Regions from separate parts of the Homo sapiens genome. Here region 1 is linked to region 2. The links come from fine-mapping of genetic effects on gene expression. A gene starts in region 2. The other region holds a variant in brackets. All regions are shown on one strand. Distances are between the middles of the regions.

Region 1 (8,697 bases), 980 kb after region 2:
CAGACTGTACAAAAGTGTGACACCAGCATCTCCTTCCCTTCTGGTGAGGCCTCAGAGAACTTTTACTCACAGCAGAAGGCAAAGCAGGGGCAAGCATATCACATGGCAAGAGAAGGACCAAGAGAGACAAGGGGGTGATTCCATACTGTTTTTAAAAAAACAGATCTTCCATAAATAGAGCTAGAATCTACTCATCACCAAGGGGATGGCACTAAGCCATTCATGAGAAATCTGCCCCCATGGTCCAATACCTCCCACTAGGCCCAACCTCCAACATTCAAAATCACATTTCAACATGAGATTTGGAGGGAATATCCTTTCTGTATTGTGTATTCTTATTGCTTTTTTTGAAGATTAGTTGACCATATACGTGTGGATATATTTGTGAACTATCTATTTTGTTCAGTTGGTTGATGTATCTGTTTTTATGCCAGTACAATTCTCTATTGATTACTATATCTTTATAATATACTTGGAAATTAGGCAGTGTGATGCCTCCAGATCTGTTGTCTTTTCTTATTATGTCTTTGGCTACTTAGGGTCTCCCAGGTAGATGAAAAGGTGCTTAACATAATTAATCATCAGGGGAATGCAAATTAAAACCACAGTGAGATATCACTTCACATCTGTTAGTATGAATATGATCAAAATGCCAAGTGATAACAAGTATCAATGTAGGCTTCTCAAAACAACGAATACTAGGACAGGGAGGCAGGGCAAGATGACTAAATAGAAGGCTACAGCAAGTTTCCCCCTACCACACAGGAACACCATATTGAACATAAATAAAGCACCTTCAAAAGAACCAAATATCAAGGGAGTGGTCACAGTACTTGCTTTAACACCATATTAAGGAAAAAGGCAATGAAGAGGGTAGGAAACACAGTCTTTCTTAAATAGCCTACACCACCCCACTCGTATCCCCCAGCAGTGGCTACATGGAACAGAGAGAATCTCTGTACTTAGGGAAAGGAAAGTGCTGAAATTTTGGGACTACACATTCAAACTCAGTGCTGCCCTACCATAGTCAAAAGCAACACAGGGCAGAACTCAACCAGCACCCACGGAGGGAGCATTTAGACCAGCCATAGTCAGAGATGAATTGTCCATCCCAGCAGTCGACACCTGAGTTCCAGCAAGCCCTGCCACTGCAGGCTAAAGTGCTATGGGGCCCTAAATAAACTTGAAAGACAGTCTCAGCCACAAGGACTCCAATTCCTACGTGAGTCCTGGTACTATGCTGGGCTCAAAGCCAGGTAGACTTGGAGTGTAGACAATGTAGTGATGCACCAGCTAGGGCAGCCTAGGGAGTGCTCATGTCACCCTTCCCTCAAACCCAGGCATCACAACTTGCAGCTCCAGGAGAGACTCCTACCTTCACCTTGAAGAGACGAGAGGAGAGTGGGGAGTGAAGAGGACTGTGTCTTGCAATTGGGTACCAGCCCAGCCACAGTAGGATAAGGCAACAGGAATAGTCCCAAGGCTCCCATTACAAGCCCCAGCTCACAGATGACATTTCTTAACACACTGTGGACTAGAAGGGAACATGCTACCTTGAAGGGAAGGACCAACTCCTGGCAGGATCTATCACCTGCTAACAAAAAAGCTCTTGGGCTCTGCATAATCATCAGTGGTAACCAGCCAGTGCTTGCTGTGGGCCTGGGGTGGTGGTGGCTATGGGGAGAAACTCCTCTACTTGAGGATAGGGGAGGCAAGTGTGAGAAGGACTTTGTCTTGCAGCTTCTTGCCGGCTCAGCCACAGTTTAACAGAGCACCAGGTAGATTCCTAAGGTTCTGAACTCCAGGTCCTAGGTCCAGAAGAGCAACTTTTGACCCACCCAGGGCAAGGGAGAACTTGCTGCCCTTAAGGGAAGAACACAAGACTGACTGGCTTCACCACCTATTGACTGTAGAGCATTTTGGCTTTAAGTGAACATAGGCAGTAGCCAGGCAGTGGTCACTGTGGTATTGGGCAAGACCAAGTGGCATGCTGACTTTGGGTCTGACCCAGCACAGTCCCAGTGGTGAGTACCATAGAGGTACTTGTGTCATCCCACACCCAGCTCCAGGCAGCTCAGCACAGAGACTCAATTGGTTTGGGGTAAAGTAAGGAAAGAAAACAAGAACCTCTGTGAGGTAATCCAGGTAATTCCTCCATGATCTTACCCAAGACCACCAAGGCAGTACCTCAGAGTCTACAAGAGCCATAACATTACTAGACTTAGGGTGTCCCCTAATAGAGACAAAGCTGCAGTGACCAAAGGTTTAGAACAACACCTAAATCCCTTTGAATACCTGGAAAGCCTACCCAGGAAGGATGGGTACCAAGCCCAGACTGTGAAGACTACAATAAATACCTAACTCTTCAATGCTCAGACACTGAGGAACATCCACAAGCATCAAGAACATCCAAGAAAACATTAATTCACCAAATGAACTGAATAAAGCACCAGAACCTTAATACACTGTTGGTGGTAAGGTACATTAGTACAACCACTATGGAGAACAGTTTGGAGGTTCCTCAGACAACTAAAAATAGAGCTACCATACAACCCAGCAATCCCACTGCTGGGTATATGCCCCAAAGAAAGGACATCAGCATATTGAAGACATATCTGCATCCCCATGTTTATTGCAGCCCTACTTACAATAGCCAAGATTTGGATGCAACCTATGTATCCATCAATAGATGGATGGGTAAAGAAAATGTAGTACATATACACAGTGGAGTACTATTCAGTCATAAAAAAGAATGAGATCCTGTCATTTGCAACAACATGGATGAAACTGAAGGACATTATATTATGTGAAATAAGCCTGAAACAGAAAGGCAGCTTCACATATTTATGGGAGCTAAAAATTAAAACACTTGAACTCATGGAGATAGAGAGTAGAACAATGTTTACCACAGTCTGGGAAGGGTAGTGGGGGTAGGGGGAGTGTGAATGGTTAATGGGTACCAAAAAATAGAGTAGATAAGATCTGGTATTTGATATCACAACAGGATAACTACAGTCAACGAAAGTTTATTATACATGCCAGGTGTCACGGCTCTTGTCTGTAATCCCAGCACATTGGAAGGCCAAGGCAGGAGGACAGCTTGAGTCTGGAAGTTCAAGACCAGCCTGGGCAACATAGAGAGAACTTGTCTCTACAAAAAATAAAATAAAATAAAATAAAAATTAACTGCATGTAGTGGCATGCACCCGTAGTCTCAGATACATGGGAGGCTGAGGTGGGAGGATCACTTAAGCCTGGGAGGTCAAGGCTGCAGTAAGCCATGATCATGCCACTGCACTCAGTCTGGGTGACAGAGTGAGAATAAATAAAAGTAATGTGCAGTTAAAAATAACTAAAAGAGAAGATTGTATTGGTTGGGTGGAGCCAAGATGGCCGAATAGGAAAAGCTCCGGTCTACAGCTCCCAGCATGAGCGACACATAAGACGGGTGATTTCTGCATTTCCATCTGAGGTACCGGGTTCATCTCACTAGGGAGTGCCAGACAGTGGGAGCAGGACAGTGGGTGCAGCACACCATGCGTGAGCCGAAGCAGGGCGAGGCATTGCCTCACTCGTGAAGCACAAGGGGTCAGGGAGGTCCCTTTCCTACTCAAAGAAAGGGGTGACAGACAGCACCTGGAAAATCGGGTCACTTCCACCCTAATACTGCGCTTTTCCAACAGGCTTATAAAAGGGCACACCAGGAGATTATATCCCGCACATGGCTCGGAGGGTCCTATGCCCACGGAGTCTCGCTGATTGCTAGCACAGTGTTCTGAGATCAAACTCCAAGGTGGCAGTGAGGCTGGAGGATGGGCGCCTGCCATTGCCCAGGCTTGATTAGGTAAACAAAGCAGCCTGGAAGCTCAAACTGGGTGGAGCCCACCACAGCTCCAGGAGGCCTTCCTGCCTCTGTAGGCTCCACCTCTGGGGGCAGGGCATAGATAAACAAAAAGACAGCAGTAACCTCTGCAAACTTAAATGTCCCTGTCTGACAGCTTTGAAGAGAGGAATGGTTTGCCCAGCATGCAGCTGGAGATCTGAGAACAGGCAGACTGCCTCCTCAAGTGGGTCCCTGACCCCTGACCCCCAAGCAGCCTAACTGGGAGGCACCCACCAGTAGGGGCAAACTGACACCTCACACGGCTGGGTACTCCTCTGAGAAAAAACTTCCAGAGGAACAATCAGGCAGCAGCATTTGCAGTTCACCAATATCCACTGTTGTACAGCCACCGCTGTTCTGCAGCCACCACTGCTGATACCCAGGCAAACAGGGTCTGGAGTGGACCTCCAGCAAACTCCAACAGACCTGCAGCTGAGGGTTCTGTCTGTTAGAAGGAAAACTAACAAACACAAAGGACATCCGCACCAAAAACCCACCTGTATGTCACCATCACCAAAGACCAAAAGTAGATAAAACCACAAAAATGGGGAAAAAACAGAGCAGAAAAACTGGAAACTCTAAAAAGCAGAGCACCTCTCCTCCTCCAAAGGAACTCAGCTCCTCACCAGCAATGGAAAAAAGCTGGATGGGGAATGACTTTGACGAGTTGAGAGAAGAAGACTTCAGATAATCAAGCTACTCCGAGCTAAAGGAGGAAATTCAAACCAATGGCATAGAAGTTAAAAACTTTGAAAAAAAAATTAGACGAATGGATACTTAGA[A/G]TAACCTATGCAGAGAAGTCCTTAAAGGAGCTGATGGAGCTGAAAGCCAAGGCTCCAGAATTATGTGAAGAACTCACAAGCCTCAGGAGCCGATGCGATCACCTGGAAGAAAGGGTATCAGTGATGGAAGACGAAATGAATGAAATGAAGTGTGAAGGGAAGTTCAGAGAAAACAGAATAAAAAGAAATGAACAAAGCCTCCAAGAAATATGGGATTATGTGAAAAGACCAAATCTACGTCTGATTGGTGTACCTGAAAGTGACAGGGAGAATGGAACCAAGTTGGAAAACACTCTGCAGGATATTATCCAGGAGAACTTCCCCAATCTAGAAAGGCAGGCCAACATTCAGATTCAGGAAATACAGAGAACGCCACAAAGATACTCCTCGAGAAGAGCAACTCAAAGACACATAATTGTCAGATTCACCAAAGTTGAAATGAAGGAAAAAAATGTTAAGGGCAGCCAGAGAGAAAGGTCGGGTTACCCACAAAGGGAAGCCCATCAGACTAACAGCGGATCTCTCAGCAGAAACTCTACAAGCCAGAAGAGAGTGGGGCCAATATTCAAGATTCTTAAAGAAAAGAATTTTCAACCCAGAATTTCATATTCAGCCAAACTAAGCTTCATAAGTGAAGGAGAAATAAAATCCTTTACAGACAAGCAAATGCTGAGAGATTTTATCACCACCAGGCCTGCCCTACAAGAGCTCCTGAAGGAAGCACTAAACATGGAAAGGAACAACCGGTACCAGCCACTGCAAAAACATGCCAAATTGTAAAGACTATCAAGGCTAGGAAGAAACTGCATCAACTAACGAGCAAAATAACCAGCTAACATCATAATGACAGGACCAAATGCACACATGACAATATTAACTTTAAAAGTCAATGGACTAAACGCTCCAATTAAAAGACACAGACTGGCAAATTGGATAAAGAGTCAGGACCCATCAGTGTGCTGTATTCAGGAAACCCATCTCACGTGCAGAGACACACATAGGCTCAAAATAAAGGGATGGAGGAAGATCTACCAAGCAAATGGAAAACAAAAAAAGGCAGGGGTTGCAATCCTAGTCTCTGATAAAACAGACTTTAAACCAACAAAGATCAAAAGAGACAAAGAAGGCCATTACATAATGGTAAACGGATCAATTCAACAAGAAGAGCTAACTATCCTAAATATATATGCACCCAATACAAGAGCACCCAGATTCATAAAGCAAGTTCTTAGAGACCTACAAAGAGACTTAGACTCCCACACATTAATAATGGGAGACTTTAACACCCCACTGTCAACATTAGACAGATCAACGAGACAGAAAGTTAACAAGGATATCCAGGAATTGAACTCAGCTCTGCACCAAGTGTACCTAATAGACATCTACAGAACTCTCCACCCCAAATCAACAGTATATACATTTTTTTCAGCACTACATCACACCTATTACAAAATTGACCACATAGTTGGAAGTAAAGCACTCCTCAGCAAATGTAAAAGAATAGAAATTATAACAAACTGTCTCTCAGACCACAGTGAAGTCAAACTAGAACTCAGGATTAAGAAACTCACTCAAAACCACTCAACTACATGGAAACAGAAGAACCTGCTCCTGAATGACTACTGGATGCATAACGAAATGAAGGCACAAATAAAGATGTTCTTTGAAACCAATGAGAACAAAGACATAATATACCAGAATCTCTGGGACACTTTCAAAGCAGTTTGTAGAGGGAAATTTATAGCACTAAATGCCCACAAGAGAAAGCAGGAAAGATCCAAAATTGACACCCTAACATCACAATTAGAAGAACTAGAAAAGCAAGAGCAAACACATTCAAAAGCTAGTAGAAGGCAAGAAATAACTACGATCAGAGCAGAACTGAAGGACATAAAGACACAAAAAACCCTTCAAAAAATTAATGAGTCCAGGAGCTGGTTTTCTGAAAGGATCAACAAAATTGATAGACCGCAAGCAAGACTAATAAAGAAGAAAAGAGAGAAGAATCAAATACACGCAATAAAAAATGATAAAGGGGATATCACCACCGATCCCGCAGAAATACAAACTACCATCAGAGAATACTACAAACATCTCTACCCAAATAAACTAGAAAATCTAGAAGAAATGGATAAATTCCTGGACACATACGCCCTCTGAAGACTAAACAAGGAAGAAATTGAATCTCCAAATAGACCAATAACAGGCTCTGAAATTGTGGCAATAATCAATAGCTTACCAACCAAAAAAAGTCCAGGACCAGATGGATTCACAGCCGAATTCTACCAGAGGTACAAGGAGGAGCTGGTACCATTCCTTCTGAAACTATTCCTATCAATAGAAAAAGAGGGAATCCTCCCTAACTCATTTTATGAGGCCAGCATCATCCTGATACCAAAGCCTGGCAGAGACACAACCAAAAAAGATAATTTTAGACCCACATCCTTGATGAACATTGATGGAAAAATCCTCAACAAAATACTGGCAAACTTAATACAGCAGCACATCAAAAAGCTTATCCACCATGATCAAGTGGGCTTCATCCCTGGGAGGCAAGGCTGTTTCAACTTACGCAAATCAATAAATGTAATCCAGCATATAAACAGAACCAACAACAAAAACCACATGATTATCTCAATAGATGCAGAAAAGGCCTTTCACAAAATTCAACAGCCCTTCATGCTAAAAACTCTCAATAAATTAGGTATTGATGGGACGTATTTCAAAATAATAAGAGCTGTCAATGACAAACTCACAGCCAATATCATACTGAATGGGCAAAGACTGGAAGCATTCCCTTTGAAAACTGGCCCAAGACAGGAATGCCCTCTCTCACCACATCTATTCAGCATAGTGTTGGAAGTGCTGGCCAGGGCAATTAAGCAGGAGAAGGAAATAAAAGGTATTCAAATAGAAAAAGAGGAAGTCAAATTGTCCCTGTTTGCAGATGACATGATTGTATATCTAGAAAATCCCATTGTCTCAGCCAAAAATCTCCTTAAGCTGATAAGCAAATTCAGCAAGGTCTCAGGATACAAAATCAATGTGCAAAAATCACAAGCATTCTTATACACCAATAACAGACAAACAGAGAGCCAAATCATGAGTGAACTCCCATTCACAATTGCTTCAAAGAGAATAAAATACCTAGGAGTCCAACTTACAAGGGATGTGAAGGACCTCTTCAAAGAGAACTACAAACCACTGCTCAAGGAAATAAAAGAGGATACAAACAAATGGAAAAACATTCCATGCTCATGGGTAGGAAGAATCAATACTGTGAAAATGGCCATACTGCCCAAGGTAATTTATAGATTCAATGCCATCCCCATCAAGCTACCAAGGACTTTCTTCACAGAATTGGAAAAAACTACTTTAAAGTTCATATGGAACCAAAAAAAGCCCCCATCGCCAAGTCAATCCTAAGCCAAAAGAACACAGCCAGAGGCATCACACTACCTGACTTCAAACTATACTACAAGGCTATAGTAACCAAAACAGCATGGTACTGGTACCAAAACAGATCTATAGATCAATGGAACAGAATAGAGTCCTCAGAAATAATGCTGCATATCTACAACCATCTGATCTTTGACAAATCTGAAAAAAAAAAAGCAATGGGGAAAGGATTCCGTATTTATTAAATGGTGCTGGGAAAACTGGCTAGCCATATGTAGAAAGCTGAAACTGGATCCCTTCCTTACACCTTACACAAAAATTAATTCAAGATGGATGAAAGACTTATATGTTAGACCTAAAACCATAAAAACCCTAGAAGAAAACCTAGGCAATACCATTCAAGACATAGGCATGGGCAAGGACTTCATGTCTAAAACACCAAAAGCAATGGCAACAAAAGCCAAAATTGACAAATGGGATCTAATTCAACTAAAGAGCTTCTTCACAGCAAAAGAAACCACCATCAGAGTGAACAGGCAACGTACAGAATGGGAGGAAATTTTCACAACCTACTCATCTGACAAACGGCTATTATCCAGAATCTACAATGAACTCAAACATATTTACAAGAAA
Region 2 (8,561 bases):
CTCAGAGCCTTTAAGGTGCTAATGTGACTCTACAAGAGGGTATTACTATATGCAGTACTTGTCCAACATATACGACCACTGAAACCTTTTGTGGGAAGCAGCTTTCAGATCTGGTGAGTGATCCTCAGGACATAATTTTGGAAACCCTGCCCAACCTACGATGCATTTTCACCCTTCCAGGTCCTTGTTCAGATGATCCACTCCACGGAGAATGCTCCATAAAGCTCCTCAGTGTGAATGCATCCTCCAGTTCAAATGTCACCTTTTTCCTCTAGCTCTTCCCCCGCCACCCCCCCCACCCCGATTCTTGAGGTAGAACTGGCTGCACCCTTTTCTGGACTCAGAGAGCACACTGTTCACTTCATGCTCTGCTCCCAACACAAGCCTGGAAATGCGCCAAAGGCCAAGGCCGGGTACAGACTGTGCTGAAATGCACTGTGTTTTGCCACTCCCCCACCTCGATGTGAAGTGTCCTTTTCAGTTTTCCACCCACTGTCTCCTATCTCTGTGTACTCTTCATCTTCTGCTGTTACAACCATCTATCCATCACCTAGAACTAAAATGATTTTTTGGGGTTTTGTTACATTTTTAAGTTAAATGTTCACTGGACTTCCTTTGTTTAAAAAGTTGCTCAGAATGCTTTTTCTTTCCTCCATAAAAGCAGATTGTGTTCATGCCTTGATACCCTGTCCTTGGCCAGGCTTGCTCTGAGAAAAGAAAAGAGGGAAGACAAGGGTGGGGGGGGATTAGCTCACCTTCCTCAATGCCCTCTTCTTCCACTGATTCGTCTGAGATGATCTCTATCACGTCCTCGTAGTCAGCCTGATCCTTGTCAAAGTCTTCAATAACTTTCTCATAGTACTCAATGTCTCTGTCGTCATCATCGCTGCCTTCATTGTCACCTTCATTGCCATCATCATCACTGCCCTCATTGTCACCTTCGTTGCCATCATTATCTTCATCATCACTGGCCTCATCTGCTTCATTGTCACTGTCGCTGCTGTCCTGGTTGTTGCCATGGCTGCCCCAGAAGCCACCTTTGAAGAAGTTGTTGCCGTAAGTGTTCTCGTTGTTGTTAGGGTTCTCTTCGTTGTCATCAGTGTTCTTGTTATTGTCTTCAGGATTCTCGTTGTTGTCATCTGCACTCTCATTGTTGTCAGTGGTTTCGTGGTCATCAGCACTCTCGTTGTTATCAGTGGTCTCGTTGTTGGGGACCTCATTGTGGTCAGGATTCTCGCTGTCGCAGATGTTCTCATTGATGTCAGTTATCTCATTGTCAGTGGTCTCGAAGTAGTCGGTGGTCTCCATGAAGTCAGAGATCTTGATGTCATGAATTGTCTCATCAATGTCTGAGATCTCGCTGAAAATGTCTTCCACTGCATAATAGTCAGGGGCGTCTTCCATGATCACCACCTCACATCTGCCCCTGGTTTTACTGTAAGGAAGGCTGTGGCTGAGTATAGGGTTGGTGGGAGGTGGTGTACTCATAGCACTCAAAGGTGGGAAGTAACTGGGGAAGCAGTAGGCTATAAGGGATCCCAGGAATGGGGCTAGGGTGGGTAAAGTCCCACTTCTGCCCCTGACTGTGTAACCTCAAGCCATTTCTGGGCATGATTTCCCACTTGTAAAACATATTCCACTGGGATTATCTCAAAGGTCCCTTTTTGGCTCCATAAATCCTGTGTTACACTAGTCTTTTCCCCATCCCCAACAAACCACCTCTCAGCGACCAAACTCCCATTACCGTTTCTTCATTTCTTGCTTCTTTCTCTTTATCCTGGAGCCCCTTTCTCTCAGGTAGTAGCGTAGAGGGTTAACCCACAGATCATTCTTGATAATCTGTTGAAAAAGGGGAGAAGGAATAAGACAGCCATTAGTACAAGCTCCAGATCCTCCTCTTAATTCCCCACGCACCCAGGAACAAGCCTAGCAAGGCCTTCTCTGGTGATGCCAGGAAGGGCCCCACCTCAGCAATCCTGTCAGCCTCTGGGAGGCTATGGTTTGAGAACCAGCTGAAAAAGCTGTGGCTCGCATCCTGGTTCCCGTGACGACGGGCCTGGGGTTCCTGGCCCCGGTGCCAGCGGATTGGGGTTGAGTGAGACACCAGCCGGCCTAGGGAGAGAGAAGGCTATGGAGATGGGACAAAACAAGGACAGATTGAGGGGGGGAACATGGATTTACTCTGGTACTGCCACTTACCTGAGCGGTTGCGCTGGAACTCCTTGACAATCACCATGTTTGTGAAGTAGGGGTTAGTCTGGAAGTACAGCTTCATTTTGTAGCCCATGGAGATATGTCTGAGATCCTGTACCTGCTCCAGGTGGGGGTGATGGTGGAATCTGTCCCCCCCCCAACACACCACGGCCCTTCCCACCCACCTCCCGTCACCTCCAAGAACCAGATTCGTGCCCGATCCTACTAAAAAATGTCTCTCTGGCCTGACCTGCAGATTGGTCAAGTAGCGGAAAATGTCTTCATCACGTCGGTTGATCAAAATTGAAATTCTGGGGTGGTTGAGGAACTGATGAGTGGAGCAGTTTAGGTCAAGGATTGACTATTCCGTGAAAGGGAGGGAGGGAAGGCCAGGAAGGGCACAGTAAGAGAGGCTGGAGCATGAGGATTCCTTCTGTGCTTATGTGGTGTGTATAAAGCAAGTGAGTCATGGGACATAACCCATACTTATTCCCATGATAAACCTCTATGTTAGGTGGCCCTACAGGGTGTCGACAATCCATGTGCATGTGGTATATGTCACTGGGTGCTGAAAGCTTGTGTTCACAAAATGCACGTCTGGGGGCTTAAGGGCCATGTCCAAGTGATGCTGTAACTGATTGCTGAGGGCCTGTGGTCACGTTATTGTATGTATGGGTGTTGAAGGTCCATGTCCACATGATGTGTGAATGGCTCTGATGGCTTGTGGTCAAGTTATGCCATGTGTCTACATGCTGAGGACCTGTGGTCACATAATACTGTGTCTAGGAGCTGAGGTCCTATGTCTAAATGATATTGTATGCCTGGGTGCTAAGGGCCTCTTACCATGTGCTGTTTCATATGAGGGCTAAGGGTCTGTATCCACATAATTCTATTAGGATGTTCGACTCATGTTCCTAACATGTTACATGTATGTGTATGTGTCTACTCTCCCCTTTCCTTCATTTAACTCCTTTTTCTCTATACCTAGACACTCCCTCTCTTGATCTTTCAGGGGCTCCAGCCCCCCTCCCTCCAATGCAAGGCACTCCAGCCAGGATTGGGGTCTCCTAGTATCTTAAGCAAAAATCTAGGTTTACAGAGCCTTGTATGGCTCAAGCACCCTTTCTGGGCAGTTTCTCTGCTGTGTGCCATTCCCCTCCCTCTTCAAGGTCTCTGAGTCAGTTCATCTTCTACGTGCCCCTCCCCTCCTCCTTTCACCATCTCTGGTCCAATTTTTTTGCTGTGTGCCCCTTTACTACCCTCCCCCTTTTTATCATCTGTGATCCTTTTTTTAATGCTATGTTCCTCCTCTTCCCCCTTTCCCATCTGTGGTCCAGTTTTTATGTCCGCCCCCCCTCCACCACCCTTCATCATCTCCAGTCCAGCTTCTCTGCTGTTTTGCCCTCCTCCTTCCATCCCTCTTCCACCCAGTCTAGTCCGTCTTCCGATAGGGGGATCATGCCCACCTCTGGCTCTCCTCCACCCGCTTTACCTTTTCTGTCCCTCCCCCACCTTCCCCTTTCCTGTCACGGGCTTCTGACCTACGGAGTATCGATTAGAAGGATACTGCTTTGACCCAGAAGCCTGGGATATGCTGGATGATGAGGTCTCTGCGCTCCAGGAAGGGTCTTCGCATCTGGATGAACTTGCGCTTGAGACGCAGGAAGGCTTTGCCTGCCTTGATGTTCACTGCCTCCAGATCCAGCTGAATATCCTCCAGTGCCTGCAGGATGCTCTCCATCCTCTCGGCATTTCTCTCTCTGCTTTCCCTCTTCACCTTCCTCTGCTTCCTCCTCCGCCGCCGCCGCCGCCTCCTGCTGCTCCTCATACTCTCCCGCTCATCCTCATCCTCATCCTCCACTATGATGATCGCCTCTTCCTTGCTCTTCGGGTCAACTAACCTCTGGGGCGCCCACCCCACTGCGCTACAGGTTTCTAGGGCCCCCTCTCCACCAAAACTGCTCGACTGTACAACCTGAAAATCGATTTCCAGGCTCCCCCCCGAGGCCTCAGGAGTGGGGAGTGCTTCCAGGCTCTCCGTGGGCGGGGGCGCCTCCCCATACCCCGACTCGATGGTAGAATCCCAGCCGGGACACTCAGCACCGAGCGTGAAGTATGCGCGGATCCCCCCCTCCTCGAGAATGACATAGGGAGGCGGCGGGGGCAGCGCGGGGCCCAGTCCCACCCCCCTCATATCGGCCAGCACCTGTGCCGCCTCCGTTTCCTCCTGGAGCCTCGGGCGCTGCTGGGGTGGAGGCAGCGGCAGTCGGAGGAGCGGCGGCGGCGGCGGCGGCGGGGGCGGGTCGCGCTGTGGAGACTCGGAGCTGCTCAGGCGGCGGGTCTTGGCCGGAGGCCCCTCATCTGGGCGGTCCATGGCGACCGCGTTCGTACAGCTCAGGGGACTCGCACTCGCCCCTTCGCTTTTAGCCGCGTCGCTGCCGCTAGTCGCACCGGTAAGCAGAGCTGAGGAGACTCACGCAACCAGCTCTCCTCACCACCTCGCTCTGGCGTTCCCTCCCACAGCGCCCGCTCTACTCCCTCCGCGCCAATCGCCGAAGCCCCGCCCACTCCTGACGCAGGGGTCCGCTCGGCCTGGCCATTGGCTGCCGGCCGCCGCGGCGGCGATCGCGCTCCCGCGACCCCTGCCCGCTCTCACGCAATCCGCTTGCCAACACCACACATCATCAGTTTCCGATTGGCTCCCCTCGGGCCCGCCAATCAACGGGCTGACTCCCTCAGCGACGGGAGGGAAACTGCAGGGCGATTGGCTGCGAGGAAAGCTGGGGAAGAAGCCCCTCTCCCTCACCCTCTCAGCGTTTTATCCAATGGGAAAAGTACCAGTGGTTCTGAAGACCAAAAAACGAGACGAAAAACAAACGCAGGCGCTGAGCAGGATGTGCTCACATGAAATTGGAAGAGCCTCGTTATCGTTCCCCCCGCCCCCCTCCCCTCAGCAACTACGCACTTTTAAAATCTGCCCCTTCCCCCATTTCCTTCAGCTCCTTCCCCCACCCCCGCTTCTGCCCCTTCCCCCATCCCGGGTCCTGCCCCTTCCCCCATCCCAGCTCCTGCCCCTTCTCCCACCCCCGCTTCTGCCCCTTCTCCCATCCCCCACTGCTGCCCCTTTTTCCATCCCCGCTTCTGCCCCTTCCTCCACTCCCCGTTTCTGTCCCTTCCCCCACCCCCCGTTTCTGCCCCTTCCCCCATCCCCCGCTTCGGCCCCTTCCCCCACCCCACCCCCGCTTCTGCCCCTTCACCCCCCGCTTCTGCCCCTTCCTCCCCCGCTTCTGCCCCTTCCCTCACCCCCCCTTCTGCCCCTTCCCGCATTCCCTGCTTCTGACCCCCATCCCCCAACTGTCTCTTCCCTCACCCCCACTTCTGCCCCTTCCCCTATCCCCCAACTTCTGCCCCTTCCTTCACCCCCCAACCCCACTTCTGCCCCTTCCCTCACCCTCCCGCCCTCCGCTTCTGCCCTTCCCCTATCCCCCAACTTCTGCCCCTTCCCTCACACAACCCCTGCCCCCCGCCCCCCCGCTTCTGCCTCTTTTCCTACCTTCCACTTCTGCCCCTTCCCCCACCCCCCACGTTTGCCCCCTGGGTGAACTCTGCTGTAGCTCCTCGGGGGCTCGGGCTGCCCTACCGCCTGCGCCTGCAATTTAGGCACCCAGGGTGTTTGGTTTGGGGGCCAGGTTTTGACGTGGCGTTTTCCATCTCCGCAAAATGGCTCTACAAATAATAATCACACACACAAAAAAGTAACTTCCTCTGCGTCATAAAAATGATTGTGATTCAGCTCATCTGCTAGAATTTTCTAGCACTTTCTGTCTCTTCATTTCTCCCCCTTTCCATCCTTTCCTCTCCCTTTCCCCAGTGTATGCTGTATTTTAAGATTTTTCTTTTTAAACCAGAGATGGATGGTCTTTTGTGAGGCATGGTGGTGGAGGGCTGGCTTTGGTGCTGGGATTCACATCATGGGTGTGCCCCTCATTTTGTAACCTTAACCAAATCACTGCCCCTCTCTGAGCTTCAGTTTTCTCTCCCCTAAATTAGGCATCCCTCAAGAGAGGTGTAGGTAACTGCCCATTGCAGCCTTGTCGCGGAGCAGAGAGGAGACCTAGGGATCCATCATCAGGGGAGTGGATAAGAAAAATGTGATATATGTTTTAGATGGACCACTAGAATGAATTAGATCTATATACGGCAACATGGCTGGATCTCTCAAAGACAGAATGTTGAGTGAAAAAAGAAACAACAAGATTTATAGTACAATACTGTTTATGTAAATTAAAACACACAGCAATACCATACATTTTTCACAGATACACATATATGTAAATAAACACATGAACGGTGGATTGGAAGGACGTACGTTAAATACACGAGAGTGGGTGCCTGTGTAGGGGGCGGGGAGGATGGGATCAGGAATGGGTGATGAAGGGGACAAAACTGAAGAAAAAAAAATAAAAGGGCCTCACATGGACCAATGATGATATAGTGTGCCAAGAACTGAGGAGTATGGTCAACTCAATTCTGTGCACCTGAGAGAATAACCAGATAGTAAATTAACTGTCTAGGGAGCAGGCTGGCTGGGTAGACTCCTGGGCTTGGGTTTTTTTTCCCCATGACATCCCTCCCTCTAAATTTGGTCAAAGCTGACCAAAGTCCCAGCTGCATACAGTGGCCCCTAGGAAGGGCTCCCATCCCAGACTGAGCAGTCCCTCCAGAAGCCATTACTTTGTGGGGGGCATTTCCTAACCTCATCAGTTTCCCTCACATTTGATCCTCAATTCCCAGTCCCCATTCTCCATGGTGGTCCAATTTTAGGAACACCTTGTTTGAGTTTGGGAAGGAGACTGAGACGGGGTTGAGATGGGGCTACAGGCTTTGTGAGGAGATGAGGTTTTCAAGTTCCCTGGCGGCCCCAGCCCTCCCGTGCTCAGGGCCTGGGCCAAGGGAGGCCCATCTTGTGAGATGGGAGTCTACCCTCTTGCTACCGACCTATGTAGTTTCCAAGATCCATCTCTTGACCACTCGACTTCCTACCACGGGCACATACTCTAGTTTGTCTCCTCTCAACTGTGGTGTGTGTGTGTGTGTGTGTATGCATGCACGTGCTGTATCTGTCCCCATATACAGGCATTTTACGTGTGTGCACCGGGCAAGTTTTCTTCAGGAGTGCCTCCCCACACAAAGTCACACAGACACACACTATCACTCAATCATGTCTCTCCACATGTGGTCAGACAGGGCACATGCACGCACGCACGCACACACACACACACAGTCAGAAAGAGAAAACATCCAGTATAGCATTGTTCATTTCAGTTTTTCCATTTACAAAATCCAATGGTGAATCCAGGCAGTTAGAAAAAAGAAATGGAGGAAAACCCTCCTAAATGTACCCTATCTACCCCCCACCCCCTTGGTCTTCCCACCCCACCCCCTCGGAAAGGCACCCCCATCACTATCGCTGAGAGAACAGGCTCCCCTACTCCCAGCCTCTCAGCCACTCTGGCCTGCCTTTCCAGGGCCACTCTGCAGCCAGGCTCATTAATGTCTCTCCTGCCTAGAGTGCCCTCCCCATTCTGTATGGGTCAGGCTTCCCCAGTTCTGGGGCTCTCTTGGGCTAGGGAGGGAGTTTAGGACAGGGACTTCTATAAAGAAGGGAAAGGGGGATGGATAAATACAGATTCCGGCCCCACAGGAAGTGAGAGGGGGACAGAGAGCCTGGGTAAGACCAGGGCAAGGAGTGCCAGCTTGGCTCACCAATCCACAGAACAGGCCTCAAAGTAAGCCCAGAGTGGACTCCACCCCTGGGAGGAGGCTTGGATCTCCCTCCTGGAGAATCTGACTGCAGTGTGCTCCACTTTGGGTGTAGGTAAGGGTGGGGGAAGGATGGGGAAGGAGGGTTGTTGGGAAAGAAGGATGCTTGGGGCTCAGGGCCCAGTCAGCCAAGGGCTACTAAGGAGGGGCTTGAGGCCCCTGAGGCTTGAGGGGGACAAAAAGAGGTCAGATAGGAATGGACTCAAGTCCACAGTGCCTTGGAGTTTGTACCGCTATCGGTTACCAAGGCCCCAAACAAATTTTCATCTTCAGAAGAGTAGGGTGAACCCGAGAGACAATTCTGGGGTTGAAATCAGCTCTGACCCAAGTCTCTGTGGTCCAGCTACTCTGGGGAGTTCAGCTCCCTCCTTACACTTTCCTGGTGGGCTGCTCCTGCCTGTATGGCACCCACATCAGTCCTAGTGGGGCTGGAGTGGATTTCCATCCTCAGGAAGAAGAGTTGGGGGCTGGGGATCCTGAAGGCAGCGTGAGAGAATGTGACCAAGTGTGGGTCTCTTCAGTTCGAGGAGTTCAGCTCACATCTT

The links. PIP is the estimated chance that this variant, and not a neighbour inherited with it, causes the effect.
Region 1: its variant is the best candidate, but not a certain one, in a credible set for the expression of TSPYL2 in whole blood (TOPMed, PIP 0.86).

What each region holds. Positions count from the first base shown.
Region 1 is chrX:52,101,429-52,110,125 of GRCh38, reverse strand. No RefSeq gene overlaps it. Among named protein-coding and RNA genes, the nearest start is that of MAGED4B, 37 kb to the right of the region's middle. The variant A/G (reference allele first, on the strand shown) is at 4,666.
Region 2 is chrX:53,078,505-53,087,065 of GRCh38, reverse strand. It overlaps TSPYL2 (TSPY like 2), which reads right to left and starts at 4,699. Exons shown (of 7, transcript NM_022117.4): 1 at 3,761-4,699; 2 at 2,444-2,521; 3 at 2,200-2,311; 4 at 1,967-2,112; 5 at 1,745-1,839; 6 at 756-1,435. The coding sequence starts at 4,567. It overlaps GPR173 (G protein-coupled receptor 173), which reads right to left. Exons shown (of 2, transcript NM_018969.6): 2 at 6,451-8,561. RefSeq lists silencers at 4,325-4,374, 4,405-4,454, 4,725-4,834.